Regions from separate parts of the Homo sapiens genome. Here region 2 is linked to region 1. The links come from fine-mapping of genetic effects on gene expression. A gene starts in region 1. The other region holds a variant in brackets. All regions are shown on one strand. Distances are between the middles of the regions.

The links. PIP is the estimated chance that this variant, and not a neighbour inherited with it, causes the effect. A credible set is the group of variants that fine-mapping cannot tell apart.
Region 2: its variant is the best candidate, but not a certain one, in a credible set for the expression of JPH3 in pancreatic islets (PISA, PIP 0.60).

The regions. Positions count from the first base shown.
Region 1 is chr16:87,600,923-87,603,815 of GRCh38, reverse strand. It overlaps JPH3 (junctophilin 3), which reads right to left and starts at 1,308. Exons shown (of 5, transcript NM_020655.4): 1 at 288-1,308. The coding sequence starts at 669. It overlaps LOC124903750 (a long non-coding RNA gene), which reads left to right and starts at 1,633. Exons shown (of 2, transcript XR_007065172.1): 1 at 1,633-1,804; 2 at 2,711-2,893. RefSeq lists an enhancer at 2,207-2,769.
Region 2 is chr16:87,700,637-87,703,529 of GRCh38, reverse strand. It overlaps a transcript of KLHDC4 not described here. Among named protein-coding and RNA genes, the nearest start is that of KLHDC4, 64 kb to the left of the region's middle. RefSeq lists enhancers at 1-754, 790-1,039, 1,770-1,819 and a silencer at 1,160-1,219. The variant C/T (reference allele first, on the strand shown) is at 1,609.

The sequences.
Region 1 (2,893 bases):
CTCCGGCCTGCTGTGTCCGACGCACGGAGGCTCTGCTGGGCCCCGCCTGGCTCTGCCCCTGGAAAGCCCCCAACACCCTTCAGCTGGCACAGGGGCACTGTCCCCACCAGGCAGCGGGGCAACCTGTAGCCAGGAGCCGCCGTGGCTTCCAGGGAAGCCCGGGAAAGGCCCCTGGTGCCCACGGCCCAACCGGAGGACGCAGCTCAACTTCCCCAGAGATCCACAGAAGGGGCGCGATCGGAAGCACGTCCCTCCCGCCCCGGCCCGGCCCGGCCCGCGGCACCTACCTCCGTCCGAGTAGGTCTCGGTCCCGTAGCCGTCCTGCAGCCCGTTGCTCCAGGTCCCTTCGTATTTGGCCCCGTTGCCCGCGCACTCCCGCACCCCGTAGCGCCCCTTGAATCCGTGCGTCCACTCGCCCTTGTACACCCACTTCCCCTTGCTCTCCAGGCCGATGCCGTGGCGCTTGCCCTGCGCCCAGGTGCCCTGGTACGTGTTGCCGCTGGGCCAGGTGTAGACGCCCAGCACCTCGAAGCCGTGGCTCCACGAGCCGGTGTATTCGCCTTGGCCCTTGGGGCCGGTGCAGACGCCATGGCCGTGCGCCTTGCCGTCCTCCCAGCCTCCACAGTAGGACCCTCCGTCGTCAAAATTAAACCTGCCCCCACTGGACATGCATGTAACTCGGTTCCAGATCCCGCAAACGGTGAAAACGGACTCAGGCGATCGACACAGCAGAGTCGCGGCCGCCGGCGGCCCTGGGTCGCGAGCGTTTTCCGGAGGAGAGGAGGACGCGGCCCCGGAGCGCGGTCTCGGGCGCGGGCGGCCGCGGCGCCGGCTCCGGAGGAATTTCAGTCAATCGGGGGCGATTATTCCTTTTCGAGCTGCGCCGCGGAGCCTGACCAGCGTCTCGCGCTCCCGCTGGAGACAGGACCGGAGGGGAGGGGGAGGGGAGGAGGGAGGGAGGGGGCAGGAGCGGCGGCGGCGGGGCCCGCGGCTCCACCTCAGCGGCGAGAGGGCCCCTCGCCGGCAGCCCCGCGGGGAGGGCGCCGCGCCGAGGCCGGGCGGGGGGCAGCTCAGGCCCGGGCCGCGGCCCCCCACCTGCGGCTGCCGCGCTGCGGGCGCCCGAGGGCGGCGGCGGGGCCCGCGGGCGGCGGCGGCGGCACGGGCGGCGGCGCTGGCGGCTGCACCATATTGGGGGCCGCGGGCCGGGCGCGGGGCGGCGGCGGCAGCAGCAGCAGCAATGCGGCGGCTCGGGCGGCGGCGGCGGCGGTGGCGGCGGCGGCGTGCGCTCCGGGCCCGGCTCGCGCGCTCGGGCCGCGCGGCGCGCGCCCGCACCCCGCCCGCCCGCGCGCCCCCGCCCGCCCCCCGCCCCCCGCCCCCCGCCCCCGCCCCCGCCCCCGCCCCCGGAGCGCGGCGGTCCCAAGAGGGGCGCGGCCCAGCAGGCTAGGGCGCGGCGCGCGGGCGGGGACCCCGGGCGCCCCGCCCTCCGCGCCCCCAGCCCCGCGCTCCCCGCCCTGGGCTTCCCCGGGGCCCCCGCCGGACTGGAAACCGGGGTCCAGCCGGGGCGCCCCCGCCCCCTCCGGGAGTGGGATTTAAAGGCACAGGAACTGCGTCATGGGAAGGCGCGCAGCACTCAGGGCGCCCTCGGCCCCCTCCCGGGAGCTGGGCGGTGAGGCCTGCAGAGCAGGACCTGCCAGCTGAGCGCCCCTACCCTCGCCCCTGCCCGCCCCCGCGCCTCGCCCCTCCCGCCGGGCTCGGATCTGCCCCGCCTGCCCCTGACTCGACTGAGGCCCTTTGCAAACCACAGGTGGTTTTCTCCGGTGACAAACAATGCTTCCTTCTTCCTTCCGGGCAGCTTGGGTCCAAGAGTGGGGGGAGGGGGGCTTACCCCAGAAAACAGGGATTTGGCGAGTCCCTCTCCCCTATAAATTGAGTGAGAGTCGGGACACACGCGTGTATCTTGGAGCAAAGTCACCCGAATTCCGTGCGCCCTGCGCCCTGGCCAACAGGTAGCGCCCCCCCACTCGGGGAACGGTCGCGCTTTTGGGGAGCAAAGTGGGACCGCCATTCGGGCGTTTCTAGGTCTCTCTCCAGACATACTCTCACCCTCCGCCCCTCTTCCCACGCACAAGAGAGAGTCTGATTCTTGGATCCGAGCATCCTGGGATCCATTTAAAATGCATTTCCTGGACCATAAATCCTCAGGCAGAAGCCGGCGTCCCCAGCCCTCCTGAAATGCGTGCGGGAAATGGCAGCAGACCGGTGCAGTGGGCTGATGGGGGTGTGGAGGCTGCCCAGGGTCCTCGCTCCTGGGAGTGTGGGCCGGTGACCGCAGCGCGGTGAGCCAGAAACTGCAAGCCAGGCCTGGAGCCTGAGATTAGGACAGGAGAAGAGGTGCGATTCGGAGCCTCCAATCAGCCAGGAGCCCTGCTCAGATCTTCCCCTGTCCGAGAGAATCAGGATGGTCCCCACTCTTGGCTCACGGGGCTCTCAGAAAAATCAGCCCCTCCTGGGAGTCCCAGAGTTCAACCTCAGTCTCTTGCCTTGGGCACCAAAGCTCCCTCCCCAGAGTACCAGCAGCCAGGAGGACAGTCACCTCCTCATACACCCACTGTCAATGAGGAACATTTAGGGCGGTCGGCTTTGTTTTGTTTTGTGCAGTTACAGTGATTCATTGAGCTTTCTAGCGCTGTCTCCCTGTGCCCCTCTACAGAAGTTCTCTAAATGTCTGCGGTGGCATCATTGGACCAGCTACGTCTTGGACTTTATTGGAAGCTGCCAAATTGCTTTCCAAACACCTGGAGCAACTGACCTCTCACCCTTCAGTGTGCCTGGGTTTGTGGTTCTCTATTTCCTGGCCAGCACTGGTGTCCTCAAACTTCTGATTTTCTTTCCA
Region 2 (2,893 bases), 100 kb before region 1:
AATTACATGAACGCACACATTTTAAAAACCGCCTGTGCACTCCCGGAGGGCAGAGCCTGCCTCTCTGGTTATTTTTGTGTCCTCCATTCACTTACAGGCTGTGACAAACCCTGTGCCCACGCTGCCTCCACTGCCGGGAGACTCAGGGCTGGGGGAGACATGCCCTGGTCACCACTGCGGAGACTCAGGGCTGGGGGAGACATGCCCTGGCCACCAGTGGTGAGCCAGCGAGACAGGACCCCACGCGCGCTGACCCGGGGACGCCATGGAACTCACTCGCGATTCCTGCACGCGCGCTGACCCGGGGACGCCATGGAACTCACTCGCGATTCCTGCTCACAGCACGTTTCCTGCTCGAAAACCAGGAGAGCCTCCACGTGCCGACTAGCTCTGTCCACACATCCATTGCGCAGCTCTGCAGCGGAAGGACCTTCAGTAAAGACGCTGGTTTGTAACGAGAGAAGCGTTCCAAAGTGTCACACGACATTGTTTATTACTAAAAGGAGCAGAATTTCTTTTTAATCTTGACAGTGTTGTTTTCGTAACAGTATGATTTAAACTGTTACATTCATTTAGGAAAACTTTTTTTCATTTCATAAGTAATCAAGCTATCTTTCCAGCTTAAAAGCAAAGAAAAAAGGCTCAGGGTAACTTTTTAAACCACTTCATCAATAAGAAAAGTTCTCTCTGTCATTGCACGGCGTGATTGTACACAGTATTAGCAAGCAGTTCACATGCGCCAGGGCCGACTTGGAAGGAAACACAGGTTAACACTGTTTCCTGTCCGAGTTCACAGAGATGTTTGCAGCAGGCTCAGTTGCTTTGGCAGCTGGAGCGAGGGTGCCTCTTCCGCGTGGCTCCCCTGAGCAGAGAGGCCCCTGTGGTTTTTTTCTCCGCCGGGCTCTGGGGACAGGGTTTCTGTGGAAATGGCAAATGGTGCAGATGAGCAGAGTCCTGCTAGAGAGGTCAGCTCAGCGTCCAGGAGGGGGCGCCTGCCCCCGAGGAGGCCACGGACATGCCTGGGAAGTTGCTGCCGGAGAAGTGTGCTCTGATGTGGCTACATTTGGGGACGCGGGCTCCCCAGAGGCCCAAGCGAGAAAGCCGGGGGTTCCCAGGCTGGGGGTGCAGGACGGGCCAGGCACTGCCCTGCAGGGCCCGCCCCCCTGCCCCTGCACCCTCACACCCATCTTCCTCTCTCAGCCTGACCCCAGGGCCTGGGAGCCCCCGGCAGACCGGCCCTCCTTGCCAAACAGTGGCTGCCCTTTATGGACTCGGCGCCTGGCAGAGCCACTGTGGAGGAGGAGTTGGCTGTCATGGTCAGGGGAGGCAGCCCTTGGGTTGTCAAGGTTGGTGGTCAACGTTGAACCCATATCTGCTGGAATCTCCCGGTCTGTTCCACACACGATCATGCGGGAAGCTCTGGGACCCGAAGGCTGTTCTGATCTCGGGGGTCACAAGTTCTCACAGCAGCCTGGGGTCACCAGGGACCAGACCCGGCGTTAGCCTCTGTAAGGAGCTGCCTGGCTGCTGGGCTGAGCTTTGTTGCAGGCCCAGGAAGATGACCAAGAAGGACAGAGCAGAGCCCCATCTACCACTGCTGGGAGGGCC[C/T]GAGGGAGCACGTGCACAGCAGAGCCCCATCCTCCACTCCCTGGGCTCGAAGAGGCTTCCTCGGTGTGGATGGCAGCTGTTAACGAGCAGTGGTGGTGCAGCTGGAGGCCTCTGTCCCATGGGGCACAGACGGGAGAAGGATGGCGGACGGGTGTGCACGCTTGGGAGGACGGGCGGGCGGCATAGGCCTGAGCAGGTGGCATGGGCGCACGAGAAGGGTGTGTCTGAGACAGGATGTTTATCCCAAATGCCAGGAGTGGACGAGGCGGACGAGTGGCAGTGAGGTAGGCATGTGAGGTTGTTGCCTGGCCCACTCTGCCGACCCCAGAAACCCAGCGGCCTGGGCCCAGCACCCGGCTACACATGGGGTGAGCTCACGCCCACACTGTGGCCTGTGCCCGTCACGGGGCTGCTTGCTTCTCCTAGGCTTGGGAACAAGCTGGCATGAACGCTGTGGCCGCATTCACAGCTCAGGCACTTCCACTTTGGGTTTCATGAAGAAACAGACTTAAAGAGCATTTGTTCCTAATGGGTGGGCTGAAGCTTGGGAGGAGCATTCAGCTTCTCTCCACAGTATGGCTTCACCTGTTCCTGAGCGCCCTGCTACCCTCTTGCTAACCTGGGTGGCTGAGGTCCTCTGCTTTGGTGGCGTTGACTTCCCGTCTGCAGCCAGCGCCAGGTGCCAGCCCCCGCCTCTGCTCATCGGGAAGCGCTGGCCTGCAGGTGCTTTGTGGTTGCCACGGACCCTTGTTCTGTCCCTTTCCAGCACCCACCCCCCACGCGCTGTGCATTCCGTAGTTCATTTTCAAGGCAGGGGGCACATGGTGAAAATACAGCCTGGCTTTTTTTCAACAAATGCAGCTGCACTCTTCCTTGCTTGTTTTGAAGGCTGAGCCAGCAACCTCCTTGGCACCTGGGGACAGTCGCTTCCTCAGTTTCTGCGTACCGACTGCCTCACCTGACACGCGGCCTGGGCGCGAGAGAAGCCAACCAGGTGCCTGAGTTGACTGACTCCTTCCGCCCTCCAGCTTCCTCCCTCCGCCCTCCAACCTCCTCCCTCCACCCTCCAACCTCCTCCCTCCGCCCTCCAACCTCCTCCCTCTGCCCTGCAACCTCCTCCCCTCTGCCCTCCAACCTCCTCCCTCCGCCCTCCAATCTCCTCCCTCTGCCCTGCATCCTCCTCCCCTCCGCCCTCCAACCTCCTCCCTCCGCCCTCCAACCTCCTCCCTCCGCCCTCCAACCTCCTCCCTCCGCCCTCTGCCCTCCTCCCTCTGCCCTCCAGCGT